4 linked regions of the Homo sapiens genome follow. The protein of the gene in region 2 purifies or fractionates together with the protein of the main gene of each other region. This does not show direct contact. Each region holds a gene or a part of one and is shown on either strand. Other genes may lie near its edges. The genes, in order: RNF166, TNKS, RNF114 and SH3BP5L.

Region 1 (7,024 bases), on a different chromosome or scaffold from region 2:
CTGGGCACCTTTCCTCTCTTCCCAAGCTCTGCCTGGGACCCTTTTCCTTCCCCTCAGCCCGTGGCCGTGCTGTGCAGCCGAGCCCCGGCCTGGTCTCTGGCAGCTCAGGGTTCACTCAGGAGGTGCACCATCCAGTCGTTTCCAGTGTGTTTGCAATTATGCAACAATCGATGCAATTCTAGAAGATTCTTCCCACTCCAGAAAGAAACCCAGGACTCTCCCCCTCGCCTGGCACCCACCCGTCTGCTTTCTGGTCACTGGGTTTCTCTCTGCTGGACGTTGAGCGTGAGTGGACCCCCACGACACGGGTGGGACGTGCTTGCTGTCTGCCCTGCACTGTTTTCCAGGCCTTCCGGTGCGTGGTGGGGCTGCACGCCTCTTCCCGGCCGAACGCCCTTTCCATGGGTGTGCACGCCACGCCGTCTCTTCATCCGTTTACCGACGGGCACCTGAGCTGCTTCCGCTTCTCCTGCCATGAGTGCCTGAGTATGGGGGTCCCCTGAGGCCTCCCCAGGTGGACCATCTTGCCAGCACCTTCCTCCCGTGAACGGGTGAAGTAGGCGGCCCCCCCGGCTCAAATCCAGGGGTCAGTGCCAGGGATGACCCTGGAAATATCTGCTGGGGCGCCTGGTGAGAACTCGGGTGAGGTGGGTAAAGTGAGCGACCTCTTTACTCTGCAGAAAAAGGCTTGTTCACTTTCTGACGGGTCTCAAGCTGAGTCCCGCTTTCTCTCACACGAAGTTTCATGTGGGAGCCACCAGCCAGGTGGTGGCTCTGTGGGAATCCAGTGGTGGCAAAGAGGGCCTGGGGGACAGCAGGAGGGACTTAAGATGCCTGCTTGGCCACCTTTGCCTGAGGCCCTCAGACTTCCTCCTTGCAGAAAGGGCCTTTTCTTGAGGGATGTGGAAATCTCTTGACAGCAAAGAGGACTCTGGCCCTGAATTCAGCTGAGTCGTTTGTGAACCCAGGGCCTGCCCACAGCCCCTCTGTCCAGTGGGGCTCCTGTACCAGCCCTGTGGCCTTGCCAGGGAGAAGGGAAGCTACACCCCCGGGTGCTGTAGCCTTCCTGGGACTGGGGGGCTCTGCCTCAGTTCCAGCTCCTCGCCGCAGCTCAGCTGTCCCCACAGTGCTCCTCACAAGGCCAGATGTGGCTGCCCCAGTATTAAGCTCCTTCTCTGTGTTTGCACTGGGGGCTCTCGCGCCTGGTGCTCCCACTGGCTGGTGGTGCACCCCTCCAAGGGCTGTGTGCGTCTGCAGAGCGGGAGGGTGTGCGAGCCCAAGGAAGCCCCTGCTGCTGGAGCCCGGAGTGCGCACGGGGCTGTGGGACGCTCAGTCTGTCCTCACGATGTGGTGTCCCCAGGGGCAGTGCCAAGAGCCAGGGCCCATGGGTGCCCAGGACCCGAGCCTCCGCCCAGATGGAGCAGGACCCCCTCCTGCCTGCGAAGCTGTCCCAAGCCTGGTGACTGCCACCCAGCCTCAGGATGTGCTGCCACTTGGCTAGCTTTGGCCCTTCCCTGTCCAGTGCATCTGGAGCCCCTGGGGCCTGGCCGTTTCCTTTCCCACGATTGTTTGAGGTTTTATCCCCCAGAGTGTGGAGCCGGGAGAGTTTCCAGAGTCCCCGGGCTGTCCCTGCGCCCCACAGCCCACCCAGGTGTTGTCGCCACGTGAACGTGAACCTGGTAGCCCGAGCTGGGGCCTCCTGCCTATGGGAGCTCCTCTGGCCCACTCGCGGGGACAGCCATAGTGACGGCTCTGCCGCTAGCCAGAAACCACAGGGGCCTACTGTCAGGAGGGACCGGGGCCACCCTTTAGCCAGATGGGGCCCATCCAGCTGGTGGGCCCCGGACATAGGAGTGACCATCTCCAGAGACGGCGACAGCGGTAGGGGGAGCTGCCCCTGTGGACCCCACAAATGCTGGGTCCTAAGAAGGGCCCCGAGCAAGGCCTGCGGTTCGGGAGACCCGAGGGGCGGGCTGGCACTCAGGCCCCTGTGCCCTGCAGGTTCTGCGGGGAGTGTCTCCAGCCCTGCCTGCAGGTGCCATCCCCGCTGTGCCCACTCTGCCGCCTGCCCTTCGACCCCAAGAAGGTGGACAAGGCCACCCACGTGGAGAAGCAGCTCTCATCCTACAAAGCGCCCTGTCGAGGCTGCAACAAAAAGGTACCCGCCTGCTTGGGCCGCCCTGGAGCCGGGGTCACTTGATGGGCAGCCTCAGCCCACGGGTTCTGCAGAGGGTGGGGGCCGGGGCCCTCTCTCTTTCCTGTTGAGTAATCGCGGTCTCTGCTCCTGCACCAGGAAGCCAGCCCCGGCGCCTCCCTCCCCTCCCGTCTTCATCTCTCACTTCCTGTGGTGACGGCTGACGGGGGGGCCAGCCCGGTGGGGGTAGCACTGTCAGAGCCGCCTAGCCCGGGCCAGGGGAACCCACGTGGGTTGTGGCCAGGGTAAGGACCAGGGGGCTGAGCTGAAACCTTCCCAATGCAGCCTTCCCCTGCCAGCCGATACCGGGGACGGCGCTGGGGGCTCCAAGGTCACAAGGGCCGCGGGCACAGTCAAGGACATCTAAGGGCCGAGCACCCTCCAGCTGCCAGGAGGGCCAGAGCCGGGCTGATGGGCACTGCCACACCCACATCAGAGCAGCGTAAGGGCCTGCAGCTTGTCATGGGCCTCATTGGCCCCCATGTCCATCCTGTCCTGGTGCCTGGCCCGTGCCCCGTGGCCCTCCCTGGCACATCCGCTTCAGGGTGGAGAGGCCCCAGCCAGCGCCCCGTTCTTTCAGTGGCTTCCGGAGGACTGAGCAGCTAGAGGTGATTTTGCATTTGCGTTTCCCGACGTTGCCACATCTCAGGTGAATAAGTTCTATGAAGCGCTCACACTAGTACGTGGCCCCTCGGTGGTTTGTCCTCGAGGTCGAAGGTCCAGATGTCCAGGGGCTGCCCTGGACTCCAGAGTGGTGCGGCTGAGCAGGCTGTGGTCTTGGGTGCTTGGGCACCTCCCGTCTCTCCCTGCTCAGAGTTCTTCTCTCCTGGGCAGCCAGAAAGGATCAGAACCGGTCACATGCAGAGCGGCCTCCCGTATCCCACAGCAGCTCCGTTCTCTAATCTGGGTCTTCAGATGCGGCTGTGTCTCCCGGCACCTTGCTGGAATGTGGTGCATCCCTCGGAGTCCAGCAGCCCTTAGGCAGAGCTGGGTGCCGAGCTTGAGTCCAGGAGGGCCTCAGACACCTGCGATCTTGCAGCCTGTTGCCCTGGACAGTGGGTGTGCTGTGGGTGGAGGATGGCGCCCTGCCTCCACGGAAGCATCCCCAGCTTGCCCCTCAGTCACACGAAGCGTCTGTCCCCAGCCTGGGGCATTTCTGAGTGGCCTCCACTTGGCCTCTTCCTTTTTCTGGAGCAAGTATTTGAACTCCTGCAGGCGCCAGAGATCTCCTTACCTGTTTCCCGCTACCCTTCTCCAGCCAGGTTTCTGCCCTCGGCCAGATTGTCCTGCAGTGACTTGCTTTTGGCCATGGAGTAGTGGCTGCTCAGTGCCTGAGATTGTTTTAGCAGCAGAAGGGACCGGGTCCCCCTGCTGCTGGCAACACAGACGCTTGCTTACAGTTCTCTGGTCCTGGACACCTGAGGTCTCGGCCTCCCCAGGACGGCCCTTCCAGATTCTCAGGACCGCCTTGCCCTCCCTGCCCTGTCTCCTAGGTGACCCTGGCAAAGATGAGAGTGCACATTTCGTCCTGCCTGAAGGTCCAGGAGCAGATGGCCAACTGCCCCAAGTTCGTCCCCGTGGTGCCCACATCACAGCCTATCCCCAGGTAGGCACGCTGCCGGGCAAGGGAGAGGAACTGTCCTCGGCGGTTTCCTCGTTCTGGGAGCAAGCGCAGTGCCCCATCCCAGAGAGGCTGGGGGAGTCACCCGGGGCCGGGTCCACTCTGGGGAAGTGGACCTTCCTTGCCACCCTGCAGGAAGGCTCCTGTGCTGCCCTCCCTGGCATACCCACCAGGCCCCCTGGGGTAGGGACAGCTCAGCTGTGGGGAGCAGGAGGAGGGCGCAGGCCGGGCCCACACATCGCCTCCCAGCAGGTGGATGGGCCGAGAGACGGCTCCTGCCAGGGCAGCGCCAGCAGAGTCTCTGCCGTTTGGCTGGCCTAGTTGTGTGGGGTGGACGAGGGTCCTGGGTGTGTCCTCAGGAGGCCATGGCGTGCAGAGGCACGGGGGGCACCCAGCCACTGCCACGCTCTTGCAGCCTACAGAGGGCAGGCCTGGGGCCACGCCTGTGTTTGAGAGAAGCGGGGAGGCAGAGCCCCTAGACACCTAGCCGTGCCACTCACTCTACCCCCGCCCCGCCAGCAACATCCCCAACAGGTCCACCTTCGCCTGCCCGTACTGTGGTGCCCGCAACCTGGACCAGCAGGAGCTGGTGAAGCACTGTGTGGAAAGCCACCGCAGCGACCCCAACCGCGTGGTGAGCAGTGCCTGCCCCAAGCGACGCCTGCGCCAGGGGAGGCCTGTGGGGGACAGTACAAGGCCCAGGAGCCTGCTCGCGGCGAGTCCGGGGGTGCCCAGGCCACAAAGGCCTCCTGGGACCCAGGGTGGGAACTTGGCTGCCCGAGCAGCACCTGGCGGAAACCGGGGAGTGTCCATGAGTCCTTCAGGGTGACGCGCACTGAATAACTCGCTTGTCACCGGGACACGCGCCTCCAGGTCTGGGGTGCCTTCCCAGGCTGAGGCAGCACTGACGGGGCTCAGTGGAGGGCCCCCAGTCCTACTGCGGCTACCCCGCCTCTCCGCGGTCCGGCTCGGCTTGACCCCAGTGCCTGTTCCAGGTGTGCCCCATCTGCTCGGCAATGCCCTGGGGGGACCCCAGCTACAAGAGCGCCAACTTCCTGCAGCACCTGCTTCACCGACACAAGTTCTCCTACGACACCTTTGTGGTAGGCATCCCGCCAGCACCGTCCTCCCCCACGCCCTCCTCATCCACCCTCCTCCTGCTCGGGCCCCTCGCCAGCCTCAGGGTCCGCAGGGTTCAGAGGAAGCCAGAAACAGAAGCCTCGTTTCAGGTGGCCACATTCCCCCAGGTTCTGTGGGGGCTGCCTGCAGGTGGGGAGTGATGGCAGCTGAGTTTGAGTGGCCACTAGAGGGTGCCCAGGCCTCTCGGGGACATGGACCGCACAGGGCAGGTCCCTGCCTGCCCACCCCACAGAACCCCTCGAGGGTGAGCCAGGCTTCCTTCTGGAAGCTTTCTAGAGAGCGCGGGAAGGACTTTCATCAACATCGAACACTCCAGCCCTGTCTCCTTTTCCCACCCGCCGCGGGTCAGGCACACACCTGGCCCCCGGGCCTGCAGACCCTCGCACAAACTCCTCACTCCTGGTGCGGCCCCTCCCTGCGCCGCCCTGTTCATTCCTGGCCCTGGCTAACAGTCCTGGCGATGGCTGTCACTCCCTCTGCCAGTCGTCCGGGACCCACGCTCCGCCTGCCTCAGGATGGAAATTGTTAGAGGTCAGGGAGCCCTGGCCGGCCTGCTCACCTCGGAAACCCCGGGCTTAGAGTCCGACCTGAACCAGCAGCCATCCATTCCGAGTGCCCCCGTACCCAGCGGGTGATGGACACACCTTCACCTTCTCACCCCCCAGAGGACCGTGCAGGCCCCGAGCCTGTGGGGACAGTGGAGCTGGGTCCTTCCTGTGTCCTGCTGGAGGGAGGCAGGAAGGGTGGACACGCCTGTGTGGGTGATGGGCAGAGGGGACCTCTCCTTCCTGTCTCCCTCGAGCCCGGTGCATCTCTCCTTCCTGTCTCCAGGACTACAGTATTGACGAGGAGGCCGCCTTCCAGGCTGCTCTGGCCCTGTCTCTCTCTGAGAACTGAAGGGAAGCGCAGCCACCCGCCTGCGTCTGGGGTCAGGGATGTCCCCGCTCCTGTGTCGCACCTGGCACCTGCTCGGGAGCGCACCTCACCGGACTGAGCTCACAGGAGGAGCCTGCACCCGCGCAGAAGGGGAGCCGGGGCCGAGCCTCCGGGCCTGAATACGGGCCAGCCGCCGAGGCCGCCAGAGCAGGGCCGCCTGGTCCCACCGGCGTCGCTGGGTTCTTCGGTGCTTCTGGCCGAGCAGGCGGCCTACTTGGGCAGGGCTGGACGCTGGGACCTGGAGCTGCCGCCGTCTCTTCAAAGCCATGATACCCCCTCGTGGGAAGAAGGGACCGACGCGCGAGTCGCGCTCCGCAGTCGAGCCGGGAGGAACCCAGGCTGCTGCCCTGCCCAGCCCGACCCTGCCCCGGCCCCACTTCCACCTTGCGCATTTGGTACTGGCTTTTGTGATACTTAGGAACCCTGGCATCTTTTCTATATTATCCAGTGTGATAATCTTTTCACGTTTTATAGAGCAAAGACAGAGCAGTTACTCTTCATATTGCAATATCTGTGTTTGACTAGGAATAATAGTATTTTTATGGAACATTTACAAAATTATATTTTTTAAGAAAACAATCAAAACAAGCATTGGGGGATTGGGGCAAGGATGGAAGGAGCAGTGGGGCAGCTGCCAGAGCTCAGGCGAGCCATGGGGTCTGCTGTGGGGTCTGCCCTGGCCACCCACTGTGTGTCTGGGTCCTTGAGGTTTGTACGTTTCTCTTTGATGACCAGGAAGAAATCCCAGCACCCCAGCCACAGGCTGTGGCTGCTCCCAGCAGAGGCGGGGCCGGCAGAGAAGGGGCCTCCTCCACCCAGAGTCCTGGCCTTGGCCCGCTGTCACCTTCAAAGCTGACTGTGCCCCGCTGCGGGAGGGGACGGCACCCCAGTGGTGGCAGAGCTTGGGGGCCTGGGCAGGGGCCCGCTTGGCGGGCCGGGCAACACGTCAACATTCTTTTCTGTTCTTGGCATTAATTATTGCTGTCTTTTTTTTAAAAAAAAAAGTTTAAATAAAATGTCTCAGAGCATCTCTAGCAGCCTCGACTGGCTTTTGTGCTCCACGGTGTGGAATCGCCAGCTGCTGTCTGTGTTGGAGGTCGGCTGTGTCCTCCCCAGGCAGCTCACGCTGGGGG
Region 2 (7,024 bases):
AATTAAAAATTTAAAAAGATTTCATGATTATTATTTTCTGAGATAGAGTACTGCTCTGTCACCCAGGCTACAGTGTAGTGGCATGATTACAGCTCACTACAGCCTCGACCTCTTGGGCTCAAGTGATTTTCCCACCTCAGCCTCCCGAGTAGCTGGGACTACAGGAATGCACCACCACATCTGGCTATTTTTTTTTATTATTTGTAGAGACGGGGTTGGCCTGTGTTGCCCAGCTGATCTCAAAATCCTGGGCTCAAGCGATCCTCCCACCTCAGTCTCCCAAAGTGCTGGGATTAAGGCATAGGCTATGGTACCTGTCCAAAACATATTTTAATTACTTATGCTAGAAAATATCCATTGACTGTAGTTTAAACATTTAAAAAAACTTATAAAAATTGTGATATTAGGAATTTGAGGGTTTAATTTTAGGTTCATTTCATTTTTCTTTAGAGACAGAGTCTTGCTCTGTTGCCCAGGCTGCAGTACAGTGGTATGATCATACCTCACTGCAGCCTCAAACTCCTGGGATCAAGTGATCTTCCTGCCTCAGCCTCCCGAGTCGCTAGGACTATAGGTGCACACCACCACGACTGGCTAATTTTTAAATTTTTTGTAGAGATAGTGTCTTGCTGTGTTGCCCAGGCTGGTGTCGAACTCCTGGCCTCAAGCAATCCTTCTGCCTTTGCCTCCTAAAGCTCTGGGATTACAGGAGTGATTACGGGCCACTACACGTGGCTCTAAGTTCATTTTTGATAATTAGTTTGAATGGCTATATTAGTTGCAAAGATTTCATACAGATTCATGGAGCCAATGAAATAAATGCATTGTTAACTATGCCTACTCAATCAGAATGCCTAATTTTAATGTAATTTACTAATTATGCTAAGGCTTTCATTGAAATTCTGTAGTAAAATTCCATCTTTACTGATGTTCTTGCGAAGTTATTAGGAAGTGCTGCATTACAATGTTTTGAATAGATTCAAAATCTACCCTAAAACCAAATTAAGGAAGGCTTTTGAACAGGTGAGAAAATTCTGTTTTTATGTGTTTAAATTATGTAGATATGACGGCTGGGTGATTCATTTATATCATTTTTCAGCAAAATCACAGAAAAGTGAACATTTTCTAAAAATCTATGTTCAAAACGTTCTCTTCATTTTTTAAAGTTTCTTTTAAAAAAGCAGTTATTTTATCATTTACCTAAAGTGTGTAACTTTTACCTTTAAGGATCTGATTATGTTTCCTTTTTAAAGGGTATCTACATGCAAGTCATGGTCATTTGTCCTCAGAGAACTATTAACAAATTTTGAACCCTTTTATTTTCATTAAAAAGAACACAACTATGACAACACCTTAAAATACTACTTCACAAAATAACCAGACCACCTTTTTACACTATAAAAGCATGTCAGGGTCACTCCCTGTGTCCCTTGTCAGGGTCACTACTCTGATCAAGTATGATATTTATAAAAGTTCTACCATTTAGGATAATATCCATAAATTCAACTCATTTGGACACAAGTAAAGTACACTATGCCAAAATATGCTGAAAGGGAACAAACAAGTGAGTTTGCCACTGTCAATCCCTCGATACTAACAAGTCCCACTCTTACCTCAGGAAACCTTGACATCACGAGTCACAATGGCTGACACGTGGACCTAGTGAGAGTGCTGGCATCATCTTTGTATTCAATATTGGTAAATCTGAATTTCCTTATTCTTAAATAAAAGTATTATAAATTGAAATGCTAGGATTTTTCCAACAGGGCATCTTGTATGCTCCATAGGGAGTCTATACCCTACTTTGGAGACAACTGCTTTGAAATATACATTCTTGAGAATGAAAAAATCTATAATTTCAAGTCACCTCTAAAAAACAACCAGTTTGCTTCTTTCCTCTCTTAAGTGCTTGACAAAGTTTCAGACTACACCATTCAGAAAATGCCAGTAAAAATTATTAAATATGTCATATTTCTTTAGTGTAGAGGTTGAGAAAATTATTACAAATCTGAAGGCATACAATTTTTTTTTTTGAGACAGATTCTCACTCTGTCTCCCAGGCTGGAGTGTAGTGGCGCAATCTCAGCTCACTGCAAGCTTCGCCTCCCAGGTTCATGCCATTCTCCTGCCTCAGCCTCCTGGGTAGCTGGGACTACAGGCACCCGCCACCACGCCCGGCTAATTTTTTGTATTTTTAGTAGAGACGGGGTTTCACCGTCTTAGCCAGGATGGTCTCCATCTCCTGACCTCGTGATCCACCTGCCTCGGCCTCCCAAAGTGCTGGGATTACAGGCGTGAGCCACTGTGCCTGGCCACAAATGTTTTTTAGAATAAGTAGAGCTATTCTGATGCTATCATTTAACATAATTTATTTTCTGATAAACTGTTATTCAAGTGGACACTATCAAAATATATCCGTATAGTATTAACTGAAAGTAATGTAAAGATGAAATCTATTTCAAATGACTATAGCTATATTTTGTTGCTTTACAGAAGGGTGACATTAAAGGATCAAGAAACACGGGTAATTATTTTTATTAGAAACAAGATCTAAATCAGCTTTATAGGAGAATCCATGAATTTAAGTACGAACTAATAGTCCTTTATAAAATTAGTTTCTTCAGAAAAATCGGAGAGAGAGAAGCAGTGTTAAGAGCAGCTGGCTGCTCAGTGCTGAGTCTGGCACTCTGCTCAGGTGTGTGCCTCACCTTGGCGCCATGCTTATGCAGAACTTCCATGACATCATTATGGGCTCTTTCGGCTGCAACATGCAGGGGAGTCATGAAACTACAGAAAAGAGGAAAGAAAGAAAAGGTAATTGTCTCTCTTTTATTGCATTTCCTCTTTAGGAACTGAACAACTCCTTCTGCAATTATACTTACTCTTTATTTTTTTCATTAACATTTGCTCCTTTTCTAAGTAACAATTCTGTCACTTGTTTACGTTTGGGATGCAGAGAGGCCACAGCACAGTGCTATAAAGTAAACAAAACCAAGTTAATAAAATACACTTCCATATGTACAGTAGCTCTTGGAATTGAACAGTATCTGCTGACCATTTAAAACATTGTTATCTCAGAGTATCAGAACATATGTATATGTTTTATATCACAGAGATGATCCATATTCTTTCTACGTATAGTGGAAATACAAAACGTAAGCGTTTAAACCAAGGTGAAATTATGCTCTTAAACATTAAGAGAGATCTTATTTCTTTTGGCTTAGCCAATCAATAAATATTCACTATATATTCCATGGAGAGCATCATAATACGTATGCCTCTGCAACGCTACAGAAATCTATAACTAAGTTACTCAATCTTTCATTAGGCCATCAGCCACACAAGTCAGTATTTCTAAGCTCTTCTACAGAGGTACTCCCAGCACTACAGGAGACGTTTATATGCCCAAGGATAAGCAAGAAAATGATAGAACTGAAGCAGTTTAGAGAAAAATATTCTCAGAAATTTTAGGTTTTAACATAATATTTATACAACTTTTTTATTCTGCTTCATTTTAATATTCGTATTAAAATTTAAAAATAAAAAACTACTTTCAACTAAATAAAATGAAAACTCCAAAAAAGTGGGTCAGGTTTATTCTGTGGCTATGAATATCTCCTAGCATAACACCGTGTAGCTTGAATCTATCTCAACCCTAGTTTGAGAGACATGTATTTAAGTGTACATATAGTTAGCCTATTTCAGTTTGGTCAATCCTTTAATGTTGTTTTATGCAGATACTGACAAACGTTTGATCTTTTGTGTCAAATATACGTAAGAATATTAATTAGGTATATTTAAGGTCTGTGATGCAGGCATCACATATGCTTAAATTCTGAATTTAGGAGCGATCACTAACCACTCTCTAGCTGAGCCTTAATGTGTCAATGACAAAGAAAATAAATAAATCTTTCCGAAAGTGCATTTGAAGAAAAAAACGTGGATAGTTTTAAGAATAATTTGTATAGTATCAAACAAAAAATTCATGATCTTGCCATTTTTCTACCATGAATATAATCAGTTCTTTGAATACAATTGCTCAAAAAGATAATGCAAATATCTAAAAATATACTTTAATCTTCTACAGAAGGAAATCTAGTATTTATCTAGCAAACATAAGAAAAAAAAATTCTATTGAAAAATCATATCTTGTAGTTTATGAAAGCACTGGCCACAAAAGTGGATTTGTTATAATGAGGTGGGGAAGACAAAGGTAAAATAATTTCCAAATTGAGGTTGAGCAAATGTCAATTCTCTCACCCATGAAAAGAATCACCCCCCAAACTAAGTTTAAAAATCAATGCAACCAAAATTAACATGCAAATTCCTGGCATTTCAGATACTAAAGTTACTTTAAGGTTTCTGAAATGAAAATCATATTTTGTGCTTACGTTATTATTATAGACACAGGGAATAGATTAACAATAAAATCTTACCAGTGCTGTTTCATGAGACTGCGGTTGTTTGAAATTAATGATTTCCAGAGCGAGTGTTTTTTTAACTTTAGCTAAGTCTGCTTCTCTGGCTGCTTGTAGTAAAGAATGACCTTTAAATTCATCTGTCAATGAAACAATGGTTGACATAAAAAAAGATGTAAAAATGTATAAAAATCTTCAGCATGATTATAAATAAGTAGGAATATTATTATTTTATGAATTTCTCTATTTTAACAACAGCAGCAATGTGATAATATGATGATAAAAATGCAAAAGATGAGGATGTAGATTAATGTGAAGTATGTATGCTCTGAAATAAGACTGTTTCACACTCTCAGAGTCATAAAGATACACCTATAAAGATACTTATTGCAGCAAAATTTTGAAACAGGAAACCTAAATGTCCACCAAAAGGAAACCAGTTAAATAATTTGTGTGCACATATGCTGTAACACTTTCTAGCTCTTAAACAAGAGATAGGTCTACATACACTGACATGAAAGTATACAGTGGTACATGAAAATTCAAAAAAGAAAGGACAGGCTGATGCATTATTTTTGGTATTGTCACTACTCTTGCTACTACTATTGCCACCATAAGTACACCATAAGTAATGGTATAGAAAACATTTACAGAAATATTTACCAAAATATCAATGGTGATTAGGTCTTGACACAGAAAAGGAAAGGACTAAAATATGGGAGAAATGCAGAGCTTGAAAATTTTTCAAAGAACAATTAATAGCTTATTATTTTCATAACCAGGTGAGAGATTTTTTGAAAAGCTGTATCTAAATTAATTGCATGAATGAGAATCCAATATTTTTATATCTTTAACTATGCTGAAACAAAAAGTTTATTTAAAAAACATTTGCATGTATATATTGGTAATATATTCAGAAGATGACCTCAACCTAATTATTTTTAAAATCTCACTTAAATATGGGAAAGTGATTATACTTGGGTCATAACACACATGACAAATAAAAATATGATTGTGCAGCCTTGCAGGGCTCGGGAAATGGGGAGGGCTCAATAATGCTAGATACCTGTCACTGTCAATGGCACAAGAACGTAAGCCCATAAGAGGTTTCAATAATGCTAGATACCTATCACTGTCAATAGCACAAGAATGTAAGCCCCAGAAGCTCAGAGCTTTTTAATGGTTTGTACACTGCTATATTTCTAGTGCCTGCCACATTGCAAGTATCCAAGAAATGGATGCTGATTGACTCATCCTCATTAGCCTTCAAAAAACCAAAAAAGGAGCTTCAACATACGAATTAAAACTAGGCTCGAATAAATACAATATATACAAAAAGTGTCTGTATATAACATTCCCATGGAATTCATGAAGAAAAGTATACAATTAGAAATGAGGATTATGAATTAGTCTGCTTGTAAGAATGGAAGGTTATTATTTAAGGTAGATAAAACTCAACAGAAATTAAATATTCCAATTTATGCGATAATGATTTCGGGATATAAATACGTACAAGTCAATCTCTCCCTAAGCTCCGGAGTTGGAGCCATATCCACAGCACTTTTGCCATGGCAGTTGACTAATGTAGGATCAGCGCCATGGCTAAGTAACAAAGAGCAGACTTCTACACGGTTCTTGGAAGCAGCCTCGTGCAGTGGAGTAAACTGCCAGAGATCCATGGCATTAACACAAGCTCCATGCTGAATTGAGAAAAAAAACATTTTAGGTCAGTAATCATTTTGCTGGATCAAATAAAACTCAAAAGACATTTATTTCTTTGTAAATTTCAGTTATAACTTGTTCAAATAAGTGTTTTAATTTCTTCAATATCACCTTTCAAAAACAGCTGAAATTAAATTCAATGTTTTAAAAATTTTAAGGCAATGGTAATATGTTTAAAAACGTATTTTATTCTCTTAAAATCTAAAAAAACAAGACTGGGCAACATGGCAAAACCTCGTCTCTACAAAAAACATAAAAATTAGCTGTGCGTGGTGGCACACCCCTGTAATCCCAGCTACTGGGGAGGCTGAGGGGGAGGATCACTTGAACTTGGGAGGTTGAGGCTGCAGTGAGCTGTGAATGTGCCACTGCACTCCAGCCTGGGTGACAGGGCAAGACCCTGTCTCAAAACAAACAAACAAAAAACCCCAAAGAACTAAACAAACTTTCATGAGGCCGAAAGTATGGAAAGTCATGACAAGGTAAAGAAAAAAAAAAAAAGTAAATGATGCTCAATATTCTGAATTTCTCTTACCTTTAGTAGCAGTTCTGTGACTTCATAATGTCCATATGAACATGCATTATGAAGAGGCACAAGTCCACTAAATGAAAAGAGGCAAATTAAAATACTTAAATTTCAAACAACTTATTTATCCATGTCGTACTAAGAAATAAAATCCAATAAATCCCAATACAATTATTTTAAAATATTTAAAAGTATTTAATAAAATAATAAAAGAATTCAAAGCATAGCTTATGTTCACACCTTTTGTATTTATCTTGTTTTTTGTATATAATCCTTGAAGATAATGAAAAAAATACCAAATAGAAGAACATTTTGGCGAAAGGAAGATCATATGCTAATTGACAAATGCATGCATTAT
Region 3 (7,024 bases), on a different chromosome or scaffold from region 2:
GTGTACTATAGAGCATGGTTAAGCAAATATGGTAAAATGTTAACAATCTGTCAATCTAGGTGAAGGGCACACAGGAGTTCATTCTACTAATCCCGTCATTTTTCTCCAAGCTTGATCCTTTCCCTTAATGAAGTTTAAAAAAAAAAAAAAAGGTTACTCACCACAGATTTGGTATCCGTGCTATGGAATAATTTGCAGTGTTCCACAAGTCCTTCCTGATCAAAGTTCTTCTCAGGACAGTAAGGACAAGGAAAGGTGTAACGGTTTGGAACATTCCTGGAAGGTGAAACACAGGAAAAAAGAAAACTTTTCTGTGAGTACCTTTCCATTAAACTTCAACCACAGTACACTCCAAAAAGGAGCAAAGCTCACCAAATGTGTAATGATAAGGATGCTGATGATCACTTCAGACTCAGGTCAAGTGTTGTGAAAATAACAGCTCAGCTGGCCGGGCGTGGTGGTTTACGCCTGTAATCGCAGCACTTTGGGAGGCCAAAGCAGGCGGATCACCTGAGATCAGGAGTTCAAGACCAGCCTGACCAACATGACAAACCCTGTCTCTACTAAAAAATACAAAATTTAGCCAGGCATGGTGGCAGGTGCCTGTAATCCCAGCTACTTGGGAGGTTGAGGCAGGAGAATCGCTTGAACCCGGGAGGCAGAGGTTGCAGTGAGCTGAGATTGCACCACTGCACACCAGCCTGGGCAACAGAGCGAGACTCTGTCTCAAAAAAGAAAAAAAGAATATAGCTCAGCTAACATCTGAAGTGAACACCAGAGTCCTCCCTTGCATACTCCTCCCAAAATACTTGTATCAGCTTTAGCCAGCATAACAATTCATACAACTAAACCCCTGGGCATGCAACCTCTTTGTATTAATAGCAAGAGATGACCTCCACCTAAGGGGAGACTGAGTCATTTACCTTGGCTGAAGAGATGCATCCTTAATGGTGGCCTTCACACCTTCCATGATGTAATTCTGGTATTTGGAACAAGTAGCCACGTGGGACCGGATCTTGGACAGGAAGAACTCAAATAGGAAGAATCAGAGCCCATAAGTTAGTGAGGACCTTGCAACAGGCAAAATATAGTCCCAAACAAGGGCACAAAGAAAACTAGACCTACACCACCCTGGCAAATAATCTCACCAAACTCCTGACTACGCTGATGGGGCTGAAACCCTGATTATTGCAGATTTCCCATTAATACCAAGGCTGCTATTTTATTCGACTAAATCAGGATATCCACTTCCACTCTAAAATAACTCTCCTAGAGGTTTGCTCCTATTCATGATAGGCTGTCTGCTCACAGACAAGCTCCAAATCTAGGATGTTTTTAAAAGTTTTCTATACTAGCATTTAAACTAGTCTCCTTACAGCAAGCCAAAAACCACATTCTGTTATGTGCAGCAGAGAAAAGTGATCCTTTAGGTAAAACATATAAAAGCCACTAACCCTGGTTAAAGTATCTATCACCAGCCTCTGAGAAATAATCTTTAAAATCTAAATTCTCTTTTTTTTTTTTTTTGAGACAGAGTCTCACTCACTCTGTCGCCCAGACTGAAGTGCAGTGGCACCATCTCGGCTCACTGCAACCTCCGCCTCCCGGGTTCAAGTGATTCTCCCACCTCAGCCTCCTGAGTAGCTGGGATTACAGGTGTGTGCCATCAGGCCCAGCTAATTTTCATATTTTTAGTAGAGATGGAGTTTCACCACGTTAGCCAGGCTGGTCTCGAACTCCTGACCTCAAGTGATCTGCCTGCCTCAGCCTGCCAAAGTGCTGGGTTTACAGGCGTGAGCTACCACGCCCGGCCCAGCCTTTCATATAAAATCTAGGCTGTGCAACAGTAAAACAGAAAGAGAAGAAAACCCAGAGAATAGTGCTTCATTACAGGTTTTCTAAAAAGAAAGAAAGTTTTAAGAATTGAAGAAAAGAGGGAAGATAAAGGAAAGAAAAACATTTTCTGAGGCATGCCAACAGTACAATCACTAATCTTGAAAATGGAGAAAAGCAAAAGCATACAGTAAAACAAACAAAAAGCCCATCATGGGCGGAGTACGGTGGCTCACACCTGTAATCCTGAGGGAGGCTGAGGTGGGCCATCACTTCACGCTCCCGAGTTCGAGATCAGCATGGGCAACATGCAAAACTCGTCTCTACTGAAAATACAAAAAAATTAGGCAGGCGTGGTGACACATGCCTGTAGTCCCAGCTACTTGAGAGGCTGAGGTGGGAGGATGGTTTGAGCCTGGGAGGCAGAGGTTTCAGTGAGCTGAGACCACGCAATTGCACTCCAGCCCGGGCAACAAAGCCAGACCCTGTCTCAGAAAAAAAACAAAACAAAACCAAAAACCACATTATGCATGCATAAATAAAGATGAAGAGACCGGGTGCAATGGCTCATGCCTATAATCCCAGCATTTTGGGAGGCTGAGGCGGGCGGGTCACGAGGTCAGGAGATCGAGACCATCCTGGCTAACACAGTGAAACCCTGTCTCTACTAAAAATACAAATATATATATATATATATATATATATCTCTGTGTGTATGTATGTGTGTGTGTGTGTGTGTGTGTGTATATATATATAGCTGGGCGTGGTGATGGGCACCTGTAGTCCCAGCTACTCAGGAGGCTGAGGCAGGAGAATGGCGTGAACCCAACAGGCGGAGCCTGCAGTGAGCTGAGATCACGCCACTGTACTCCAGCCTGGGCAACAGAGTGAGACTCCGTCTCAAAAAAAAAAAAAAAAAAAAAAAAAGAAGACAGTAGGGAATTGTATTTCAATATTTTGAGTTTCTAAAAGTAAACTTCAAAGGGGGAAAAAAATGCTCCAATATTTGAGCTCCAGCTTACCATGATGATTGTCTCACCTCCAGCTCAAGAACTTGACTTTAAGCTACAAACTGAGGAATCCTCAATTTTTTTTTCCTTTTTTTGTAGAAACTGGGTCCACTATATTCCCCAGGCTGCTCTCAAACTTCTGGGCTCAAGCAATCTTCCCACCTCAGCCTCCCAAGGAGCTGGGACTACATGCATACACCACTACACACAGCTGGTTTTGTTTGTTGGTTTGTTTTGGTATATACAGAGTCCCACTATGTTGCCCAGGCTGATTTCGAACTCCTGGGGTCAGTGATCCTCTTGCCTTGGCCTCTCCAAATGATAGGATATAGGCATGAGCCACCATGCCCAGCCTCAAGAGTGAAGCCCCCAATTAAGACACAGAAAATAGCCCTATTCAGCATTGAAATGGCCCTACTATGCATCCCTAATACTAAATCACGCTGAAAAGGAGATGGTAAGGTATATTCTTACTATGGGCATCCATACCGAAGTGTTAAAAATAATGAAACTGACATGCAAGGCTGTCCAATATGTAAGAGAAAAAAAACCTGAAAAGTGGAAAAAAAAAGTTGGGAATGAGTGTACATTTAAAAAAGTGAAAAAAGTTGAAGAAATATATATATTATAGTATAATCTCATTTTGCAAAAATCCTACAACTTGGTTGGTAAAAATTCTACAGTGTTTGTCAAAGGGCAGAAAATGTTATGCAGCTTTCGAAATTAAATCACTTTTTTTTTCCTTGAGACAGGGTCCGGCTCTATCACCCAGGATGGAGTGCAGTGGCACGAACTCAGCTCACTGCAACCTCTGCCTCCTGGGCTCAAGCCATCCTCTCACCTCAGCCTCCCGAACAGTTGAGACTACGGGCACACACCACCATGCCCTGCTAGTTTTTTGTATTTTCAGTAGAGCCGAGGTTTCACCATGTTGTCCAGGCTGGTCTAGAACTCCTGGACTCAAGCAATCCACCCACCTTGGCCTCCCAAAGTGTTGGGATTACAGGCATGAACCACCTTGCCAGGCCTTAAGTTGAACGAATTTTGAAGTAATCTCTGGAATGAGGAACAAGCCTACATTATTGTGTACTTTTGTATGGTCTGCAATTTTAAAAATTTTAATGATTCTAAAATCAACAAGGCTGTGTATATCTCTTGGAAAATAAGACAACAGTATTTCTCCTTTCCAGTAGCAGTTATAACAGGTATGAAAATAAATATACTTGACTCTGATTATACAAGAGCATGGATGCATTTCAAATGTTAGCTATTGTTATTACAATCCAATGATTTCATATTGACTTTTTTTTAAGAGACAGGGTCTTGCTGTCAGCCAGGCTGGAGTGCAGTGGCATGATCATAGATCACTGTAATCCCAAACTCCTGGGCTCAAGTGATCCTCTGGCCTCTGCCTCCTGAGTAGCTGGGCCTACAGGTACATACCACCACACCCGGCTAATTTTATTTTTTTGTAAAGATGAGGTCTCACTATGTTGTCCAGGCTGGTCTCTTAACTCCTAGCCTCAAGCTCTTGCCTCGGACTCCCAAAGAGCTGGGGTTACAGGAATGAGCCACCGCGCCTGGCCATAATTGATCTTTTATAGGAAAAAACTGGGATAACTGATTTCTATGGCTTTCAAACCTAAAATATATACTTAACCAACTCTTAAAAAAAGAAACAAAAACCAGTAAGGTTATGAAAACAAACCAGCCCAGCCATCACCACAGGTAATTGGCATGCACGCGTGCTGTTAGTGACCTAGTCATGCTCTAACTTCAGCAACAACATGGCAGCTGTACGTTTTACCCCAACTTATCATGGAAAGACATGGACTCTTCCACATCACTTCCACATACATTCTTACGGCAGCCATGGCAAGAAGTCTCTGTGCTCTCGATCTGCCGCTCGAGCTCCACGGCTCGGACGCCAGGTGCCAGAGCGCTGCGACACACCCCACAGACAGGCTTCTTCGGCTTCAGACATTCCTGCAGGCATGCAGAGCAAAAGCTAGAACAAGACATACAGAGAACCTCTGTCACGCATCATGGAGACAAGACGACAAATATGGATCAACTTTTAAAAAGACATCAATGGATAATGGAGTAAAAAACAACTTGCTCTCTCCTCCCAGTTCAAATACTAAGTCCTTCCAAGCCAGAAAAAATGAGGGATAGGAGTGGACTACAAAGAACACACAACTACAGAAACAAATGCAAACTCCTGTGATAGACACAGTGAAGGTGTTAAGGTTGAGGCTTCAAGCCTTAGGCCCTGCCACTGAAGGATCTCAGTGGGGTTTCTTGAATCTCCATTTTTTCCTTTGTGAAATGGAGAGAGTAGTACCTACCTCTAGGACTGCTGGGAGGATACAGTTTGTATAGCAGACCCCTGGCAGAGTGTCCAGCCCTTACAAAACGCACCACAAACGGGAGCTGCTATCATTACAGGTGAAGGCAAAGCGCTACAGGAACATAAAGGGAAAATCAACTAGTGACCTGAGAAGGAAAGGGCTGGTAAGACTGCAGTGAAGGCTGGGAGCGGTGGCTCACGCCCGTAATCCCAGCACTTTGGGAGGCCAAGGCAGGCAGATCACGAGGTCAGGAGTTTGAGACCAGCCTTACCAACATGGTGAAACCCGTCTCTACTAAAAATACCAAAATTAGCCAGGCATGGTGGCAGATGCCTGTAATCCCAGCTACTCGGGAGGCTGAGGCAGGAGAATTGCTTGAACCTGGGAGGCAGAGGTGGCTGCACACTCCAGCCTGGGCAACAGAGTGCGACTCTGTCTCAAGGGGGGGGTGGAGGGGAAGACTGCAGAGACGGCATCTCTGATCAGCCTTAAAAGGGTTCAGCTCAGCCAGGCGCGGTGGCTCATGCCTGTAATCCCAGCACTTTGGGAGGCCGAGGCGGGCAGATCACAAGGTCAGGAGATCGAGACCATCCTGGCTAACACAGTGAAACCCCGTCTCTACTAAAAATACAAAAATTAGCTGGGAGTGGTGGCGGGTGCCTGTAGTCCCAGCTACTCGGGAGGCTTAGGCAGGAGAATGGCATGAACCCAGGACGCAGAGCTTGCAGTGAGCCAAGATCGCGCCACTGCACTCCATCCAGCCTGGGAGACAGAGCGAGACTCCGTCTCAAAAAAAAAAAAAAAAGGGTTCAGATGGATCCTTTTGTAGTTCATGAACCTGAGGACTGGGTGTTCATGTGCATGTGTGAGATGTGCCACCCTCGAACCTTGTTACAGATGTTGGCCCATTACCCCTCTGGCATTTTAAAAAAAGAGGTCAGCTAGCAGAGGAAGGGAAGACTATTCTAGGCCTAATTTAGGCTTAAAATTGATATGTATCTGAGGAAATAAAAATCTAACAGACTTTTCCTCATAAACAGTAGGGAGCCAGGAGTTTAAAAGGAAGGTATTAACAAAACAAGGCCAAATCCAGGTTTCAGAAAAATATCTCTGTGCTATCATGGAAAACAAAGTTTTGTTACTTTTTTTTTTTTTTTTTTTTTTGAGACAGAGTCGTGCTCTGTTGCCCAGGCTGAAGTGCAATGGTGCAATCTCGGCTCACTGCAAAATCTGCCTCCCCGGTCCAAGCGATTCTCCTGCTTCAGACTCCCAAGTGGCTGGGGTTACAGGCGCGCATGACCACACCCAGCTAATTTTATATTTTTAGTAGAGACGGGGTTTCACCACGTTAGCCAGGCTGGTCTCGAACTCCTGACCTCTGGTGATCCACCCGTCTTGGCCTCCCAAAGTGCTGGGATTACAGGTGTGAGCCACTGAGCCCAGCCCTATAGTTTTTTTTTTTTTTAGGTGAGAAGGTGAGAAGAGACAAAGTAGAAACCAAACAGATGGCTAAAGGCAGAGGATTGTGAGGGTCTGACTGAAGCAGCAGGGGATGAATTCAGGAAACCATTCACAGAAAGGTAGAATCAGGAGGACTTGATAACTTACTGACTTTGAAGAAAAGAAGTCAAAGATGACCGAGTTCCTATCCTGAAGCCTAGGAAGATGGTAATGCTGAGATAAGGCATACAGAAAGAATGGAGAAGACACCCTGGGCTACTTACCCAACCTGATAGATTAAGACAGTATAACCAAATCTGCCAGAAAGAACTAAAGATATATAATGAAAGGCCATCTTCTGAACACTTGACCATTTTCTACTGCCTCTAA
Region 4 (7,024 bases), on a different chromosome or scaffold from region 2:
AGGCCGAGGCAGGTGGATCACCTGAGGTCAGGAGTTTGAGACCAGCCTGGCCAACATGGTGAAAACCCGTCTCTACTAAAAATAAAAAAAGCTAGCCAGGTGTTGTGGCGGGTGCCTGTAATCCCAGCTACTTGGGGGGTTGAGGCAGGAGAATTGCTTGAACCCAGGAGGCGGAGGTTGCAGTGAGCTGAGATCTGCCACTGCACTCTAGCCTGGGTGACAAGAGCGAAACTCCGTCTCAGAAAAAAAAAAAAAAGCAGTTCCTCAATGTTATACTGACAGTGCATAAATAGAATATTCTGTCATCACTGACTCTTCTATCAGATGAGCTCTATGAGAGTTGGAGTACACTGAGGTAGCGTAAGACTTACTTTGCCTCCAGTGAACTTGTGATGTCGCTGGTGCAGGAAAGGTAAAGCAGACCCTCGTCTCTCTTGCTAAACTGCACAACACGTTGTGGAATGTTGTGGGTTGTATAGGGAGGAAAGGTCTAGTAATAGCTTCCCTCATTTGATGACACAGGTGTGGGTACGCCAGTGCTCTGACCTCAGCAGGGAGTCAGTGTCTTCTTGCTGTGTGAGAGAGGCAGCCTGGCTTGAGGGGCACCCTTCACGGAGGAGGCCGGTGGCATTTTGCCCTTCTGTGCTTGGGCTTTCAAGATGAGGAGGAGATTGGGGTGTTTGTCTTTCGAGGTCCCTTTGAGTGTTGACAGTTCACTAGACCATGCACATTGCTCTGATCATGTGTTTCAGTGCTTTAGGTGGGTGTTCATTTCTCTGGATTCTCAGTGCATTTACTGGGTTTCCATCCACCGTCCATAAAAAGCCACCAGGGAGCTTCAAAAATACCCTTACCTGAGCCTTTCCAGACATGTGGATTCTCTTAGTCTGGGTGGGGTGAGAAGGGATTCTGATGTTACAGTCAGAGCCAAATCCACTGGGCCAGGTATATCCCAAAGGTAGAGCGCCTGTTTCGGTATTTTCTGAGGCTCCCGGAAATGGCTGTCCTTCGGATGAGGCCCTGTCTGACCTGGGGCTGGGGCTCCTTTGCAGGCAGGCAGCTCCATGGCCATTTATGGTGGGATTCCTCTGGAAGTTAGAAGGAAGTCAGCTGGTGCCTACCTGGAGCGTGCTGTCCCTCCAGGGAAGGCTGCTGGCTGTGTCTCCTTGTCATGATCTTAGTGGAGTTCTTTTGAGTCCTCCAGGCTCATCCTCAGCTTTCCGAGAGGGTTCCAGTGGAGGGAAGAGGAAAGGAGCGTGGATCTAGGATGGACCTGGGTCTGTTCTGTGACTTTCTCAGCCCCCTCTTAGTGGTTGCATTCTTTCCTCAGATGTGAGTGCTCTCGTTTACCTGCTCCTTTCCAAACTCTCTAGGGTGACTTTGCAACCTCTGTGACCTCATCTAGAAGTATGGGTTTAGCTTTCACAGGACAGTCATCACCCTGGCCCCAGTTACCATTAGTTTGAGTCTTTTGATGGTCTGCACTAGGTGGGGTGGGAGCATCTGCAGCCTGAGTCCCCATGCCTTTGATTCAGTGTCCTGGCATCCTGGGAATCTGACTGCTGTGCCCTGGGAAGGTCACCCTCCCTGCTGGCTGCTGGCTCACTGATGGATGATGCACGTTGATTCAGACTTTGTCCTCCCCAAATTCCGTTTCAGCTGAGTGCCAGGAGTCCCTGGTGAAGCAGGCCAAATGGAATGTGTTGCTGACTGCCCAAAACTGTCCCAGGTCCTCAGTGGATTCCTGCTCAGCCTTTCCCTGGGTGTCGCCTAGGTGGGCTATCCCCCTCCCTCCTGTGGTGACCTTGCCCTCCAGGCTGCTTTGCTCCCCAGGCATCTTCTTGTCCTGTTAGGGAGAGCTTTGTGACTCTGAGGGGACAGATCCCATCAGCAGATGGCTTTCTGTAAATTGCTGGAGGTGCCACTGGGAAGCTAGTTCCCATATAGAAAGATAATGCCCACTCCTGCCACTTGCCAATAGCAACAGCTCTTCTTGTCCTTTTAACAGTAGTAACAACTTATGCTGAGCCATCCAATCCATTGATGATCTTGTCAGGAGCTGGAAGTTGATGACTGGAAGCATTTGAGGCCATGGAATCCAGTGGGGATCCCGTCTTGGACTTTGATTTGCCACATGAACATTGCAGGGTGGCCTTTACCAACTGACCCCCCACAATCAATGTTTGTTGCATTTCCAATCCCTGTCCTTTTCCTACGTGGGCTGTGGTTTTCCTAGATTACAGCACTTCTTTCTTTACTGAGATGTCCTTCCAGTGGTGTCCTCATTCCCAGGAGGGTGGTCACAGTGGAAGGAAAGTGAGATCAAAGGTCGGTCCTGGATCCAGACCCAAGTCTGTCACTAATTTTCCGCCTGGTTGTTTCTCATCTATCAAATGCAAAGTTGCTGAGAAAGAATATTCCAGCAGGAGGTGCTGAAAGAACTGGTCACTCGTCTCCCAGATAGCCTAAAAGCCCCTGTAGGCCTCGTCAAGCCCCAGGAAGCTGGGCCCCCAGGGAGGTAGGTTGCCTTTCAGCTTGACAGACATTGCCTTTTTAGGGCCTGTTGGGGTGATCGTGTCAGTTGCTGGTGATGTCTCTGTTCGGAAGGCACTGTGAAACTTGGAGTTCCATGTGTCTGGTAGTGTTGATGCTGACCCTATGCCTCCTCTGGGGCCCTGAGCTGTGTTGGCTGCCTGTTCTTCCAGAATGGTTGTTATTTTATGGACACTGGGTTGTGGGACACTGTAGATGCATCTACCCAAATACAACAACTTCTAGACCTTCGCCACCCAACACAGGAGCCACATGCCACTGTCTAGGTTGAGATGTGTCACAAGAGTCAAGTGCATACGGATTGTGAAGACTTAGTTTAAAAAAGTAAAAGTATGGATAATAATATTATTTTATGTTGATCACATGTTGAAATATATTTTGTATATATTGGGTTAAATGTATTTTTATAATTTCACTCTTTTTTTAAATTTTTTTACTTTTAAAAAATGTGGCTTCTAGAATTAAAAATTCCATGTGCAGCTCCTGTTACGTTTCTGTTGAATAAGTCTCTTCGAGAAAATTTAGAGCAAGCTTTTCCAACCCGTGGCCTGTGGGCCGCATGCAGCCCAGGATGGCTTTGAACACGGCCCAATGCAAATTTGTAAACTTTTCTTAAAACATTATGAGATTTTTTTTTGTGATTTTTTTTTTTTTTTTTTTTTTTTGAGACTGAGTCTTGCTCCTTCACCCAGGCTGGAGTGCAGTGGCACAATCTCAGACCACTGCAACTTCCGCCTCCCAGATTCAGGTGATTCTCCTGCCTCAGCCGTCCCAGTAGCTGGGACTACAGGTGTGTGCCACCATACCCAGCTATTTTTTTGTATTTTAGTAGAGATGGGCTTTGCATCATGTTGCCCAGGCTGTTCTCAAACTCCTGAGCTCAGGCAATCTTCCCACCTCGGCCTCCTGAAGTGCTAGGATTACAGGTGTGAGCCACTGCGCCTGCCCACGATTTTTTTTTTTTTTTTTAAGCTCATCAGCTGTAGTTAGTGTTAGTGTATTTTATGTGTGGCCCAGGACAGTTCTTCTTCCAGTGTGTCCCAGGGAAGCAAAAAGATTGGACATCCCTAGTTTAGAGCCAGATTTGTGGCCCTCCTTAGGCAGGGTCTACACTGTTGTAGGTAGGTGTGTGCATTTTCATATCCTCATTCCTCGTTCCATTACAGGTTTCTACCTTTGTGTTCTTCCTGTTACTGTAATTAACATGTCAAACCATTTCCTGTATTCTTACCTGCTGACCCAGATCTTTTCAGGATCAAGGCAGGGGATGGGGGGAGGATAGAAGAGGTAGAAGGGACTAAAAGGAAGATTGTGCATGTCAGCCTGACTCCCTCACTGGGTTGCTGAAAGGCCCGAATGAGGTGAGTGGGGGCCAACATCACGGCCATATGAGTGGGAAGTGATTGTGGTGTCACTGCCAAGTGCAAGTCATGGGTCTGGGCAGCAGGCACATGCTGGGCTGGGTCTCTCTGGCCTGTCCAGCCTCCTGTCCAGAGACAGCAGGGGCTGGTGAAGGCAAATCCTATAGCTAGGCACCAGGTATTTCCTGGCACAAGGCCCTTGGCACAGACCAGCACTGCTCCTCAGTAGTGTCCTTAGCTCACCAGGGGCTCTGGGAACTTTTGTGTTTTCTCGGGCAAGGGAGGATGACTTGAGGCCAGTACCCCTCTCAGCTCTCTTCCATTTCATGGAAAGCCCTGGATGGTTCTATTGCTTCTCTCTCCAGTCCTTCCAGGGGCCAGGAAGGCACTCAAACCAGCTTGTCCAGCAACTTTTCCCCAGGACTCTCCCTCCCTCCCACAGGATCTGCTCTATAGGGACCTGCGGTCATGGTCACCCATTGCCCAAGCAGGCCAAAAGGCTTCTTGGACTCTATACACTTTCCTGATCTTGACCTTAGTCATCCACCAAGCCCCTGTGATTCTGTGTCCTGCGTTGCCTTGGGATCTGCCCTCTCCTCTGCCACCTGGAATACTATAGACAGCCTCCACCTTTTTTTTTTTGTTTGTTTTTTGTTTTTGTGATGGAGTCTCACTGTGTCGCCTAGGCTGGAGTGCAGTGGCACGATCTGGGCTTACTGCAATCCCTGCCCCCCGGGTTCAAGCCATTTTCGTGCCTCGGCCTCCCAAGTAGCTGGGATTATAGATGTGTGCCACCACGCCCAGCTAATTTTTGTGTTTTTGCTAGAGACAGGGCTTCACCATGTTGGCCAGGCCGGTCTTGAACTCCTGGCCTCAAGTGATCTGCCCACCTCTGCCTCCCAAAGTGCTGGGATTACAGGTGTGAGCCACCATGCCTGTCCCAGCCTCCACTTTTGTCTCCCTGGCTCCCCCAGGCTTTCGTTACATTGGCACCAGGCTCTGAGAGACCCTTTTGCCATTGCAGAAAGTCCTGGTACTACCTCCCATAGTGCTGTAGCCTTACTGACCTTCTCACCTGCCAACTTGTCTGCCCAGGGTACCTGCTCCCCTTTGGTTCCTTGGCCCTTTGTTCTTCACTGGCACTTTATTTTTTTGAGACAGAGTCTCGCTATGTTGCCCAGGCTGGAGTGCAGTAGTGTGATCTTGGCTCACTGCAGCCTCTGCCTCCCAGGTTCAAGTGATTCTCCTGCCTCAGCCTCCCAAGTAGCTGGGACTATAGGTGCACGCTGCCACACCCGGCTAATTTTTGTATTTCTAGTAGAGACAGGGTTTCACCATGTTGCCCAGGCTGGTCTCAAACTCCTGACCTCAGGTGATCTGCCTGCCTCGGCCTCCCAAAGTGCTGGGATTACAGGCGTGAGCCACCTTGCCTAGTCATTCACTGGCACTTTTGTGTCTATGAAGTCCTTCCAGCTGCTGAGCAAGTGTTCCAGGCATCCTACCCTGACCTTCTGCTGCCCAATTAGGTGACCTTGCTACCCAGAGAGCACCCACACCCACCCCTCACAAGGCTGCACATACTGCCCAGGACCTGCTGCTGACTTGCTGGGTTTCCTTACAGGCTGCCACCTCTATGTCCTGAATTCTCAGGTCTCACGGTCCTGAGAGGTGATAAGTGTGCAGTAAACATGTGCTGACTGAGTGGCCCTGCCCTGGCCCAGGTGGCCATCCTCTCGCAGAGAGCGAGCCTTCAGGTCCAAGGAGACTCCCTCAGTTTGAGGAAGTGTTGCAATCTCACGGAGAGAGTGAGGGCTCACCACAACTTCACGTTGTGCATATTAGTGTTGCATTCTCCAAACCTCAATTTCTTCATCCTTGAAACTGGGGTTTTACTACCCAATACAAGGTAGAGTTGTGAGGATTACGTGAGATTGTATGTATCAGGTCCCTGATAGACAAGAAAGCTTTTGGCAATCTCCGTATCTTCTTTCCTTTCCTGAGTGTCTCACCTCATTTCCCTGGGCAAGTGGGGCTCTCTCTCTCTGTGTTGCTCCTGCCTTGCATGGTTCATTCAAGGCTACTTCCTTCCACTGCACTAATTTGCCACCCCTCTCTGTGGCAGGAGGAGTTGGAGCACCTGAACCAGGCCAGCGAGGAGATCAACCAGGTGGAACTACAGCTGGATGTGAGTGTCCTTTTCCTTATGTGCTTGGGCTGGTCCTTGGAAGTATCTCCATCTGTCTCTTTCCCAGATTGAGGCAGTGGCGGTGGGAGGGGTGTGTCTGAGAAACAAGAGGGGCTGGGACCCAAACATGTGCCTTTCCTCTGCCTTGTTCCTTTCCAGGAGGCCAGGACCACCTATCGGAGGATCCTACAGGAGTCGGCGAGGAAACTGAATACACAGGGTTCCCACTTGGGGAGCTGCATCGAGAAAGCCCGGCCCTACTATGAGGCTCGGCGGCTGGCTAAGGAGGTATGGCTGGCTGACCACGTTTGAGGAAGGCTACGTGCTGAGCCTGGCCCTGGATTCTTCTGTCTCTATATGGAGTGAGAGACAAAACACCAGACCCTGAGGGCAGAGCCCTGGGCTAGACCTGGCTGGTCGGAACCAGCTCTGTGGGCTCAGGAGGTTCCTTTACCACGTGGGCTCTGGGCTTATGGTCTATAAAATGGTGAGGGTGGCTGTGGGAGAATATTTAGTTCAGCCCTGCTAATGTTTAAGTGCCTTCTGTGTATCAGGAATCAGGCTTTAGGGTATATCAGATATGTCAGTTCTAACATCCTGTTGTTTTCATCTGCGCCCATTTCCTCTTCCCTTTGGTTCATGTCTCTCTTCTGAATCTTTTCTTTGCTTACTCCTCACTCTTTTCCCCATCCCACACCCCTTTTTTCTGTAACAAATTACTTTTAACAAATAATATGTGTTCACCATTGGAAAAACATAATAAAACAAGAAGGAAACAAAAATCACCCAAAATCCTACCATGCACGTTTCATGCATTTTGTTTCCTGGGATTTGTTGTCATCCTGTATGGTGAGGTGACAGATACAGACAACTGCCTTGGAAGAAGAGTTTGTTCCCGAGAGGAGGGGACATCCATGCCATGCAG

Evidence for each region.
Region 1: the proteins of TNKS (region 2) and RNF166 purify together in Homo sapiens (affinity purification with mass spectrometry; 4 studies listed by BioGRID and IntAct, with this or other methods). This does not show direct contact.
Region 3: the proteins of TNKS (region 2) and RNF114 purify together in Homo sapiens (affinity purification with western blotting; 2 studies listed by BioGRID, with this or other methods). This does not show direct contact.
Region 4: the proteins of TNKS (region 2) and SH3BP5L purify together in Homo sapiens (affinity purification with mass spectrometry; 3 studies listed by BioGRID and IntAct, with this or other methods). This does not show direct contact.

The regions. Positions count from the first base shown.
Region 1 is NC_000016.10:88,696,396-88,703,419, reverse strand, and holds the end of RNF166 (E3 ubiquitin-protein ligase RNF166), read left to right. Parts: exon of another isoform or gene 1-630; intron 631-2,001; coding exon 2,002-2,158; intron 2,159-2,469; exon of another isoform or gene 2,470-2,479; coding exon of another isoform or gene 2,480-2,800; exon of another isoform or gene 2,801-3,686; intron 3,687-3,687; coding exon 3,688-3,800; intron 3,801-4,334; coding exon 4,335-4,449; intron 4,450-4,810; coding exon 4,811-4,918; intron 4,919-5,304; coding exon of another isoform or gene 5,305-5,486; intron 5,487-5,786; coding exon 5,787-5,852; 3' UTR 5,853-6,919; downstream 6,920-7,024. UniProt on the Homo sapiens protein: E3 ubiquitin-protein ligase that promotes the ubiquitination of different substrates. In turn, participates in different biological processes including interferon production or autophagy.
Region 2 is NC_000008.11:9,705,905-9,712,928, reverse strand, and holds part of TNKS (poly [ADP-ribose] polymerase tankyrase-1), read right to left. Parts: intron 6,743-7,024; coding exon 6,676-6,742; intron 6,119-6,675; coding exon 5,932-6,118; intron 4,559-5,931; coding exon 4,437-4,558; intron 2,975-4,436; coding exon 2,883-2,974; intron 2,788-2,882; coding exon 2,709-2,787; intron 1-2,708.
Region 3 is NC_000020.11:49,939,388-49,946,411, reverse strand, and holds part of RNF114 (E3 ubiquitin-protein ligase RNF114), read right to left. Parts: intron 6,117-7,024; exon of another isoform or gene 6,012-6,116; intron 4,852-6,011; coding exon 4,701-4,851; intron 1,031-4,700; coding exon 924-1,030; intron 277-923; coding exon 162-276; intron 1-161. UniProt on the Homo sapiens protein: E3 ubiquitin-protein ligase that promotes the ubiquitination of various substrates. In turn, participates in the regulation of many biological processes including cell cycle, apoptosis, osteoclastogenesis as well as innate or adaptive immunity.
Region 4 is NC_000001.11:248,815,897-248,822,920, reverse strand, and holds part of SH3BP5L (SH3 domain-binding protein 5-like), read left to right. Parts: intron 1-1,659; exon of another isoform or gene 1,660-2,518; intron 2,519-6,036; coding exon 6,037-6,099; intron 6,100-6,258; coding exon 6,259-6,387; intron 6,388-7,024. UniProt on the Homo sapiens protein: Functions as a guanine nucleotide exchange factor (GEF) for RAB11A.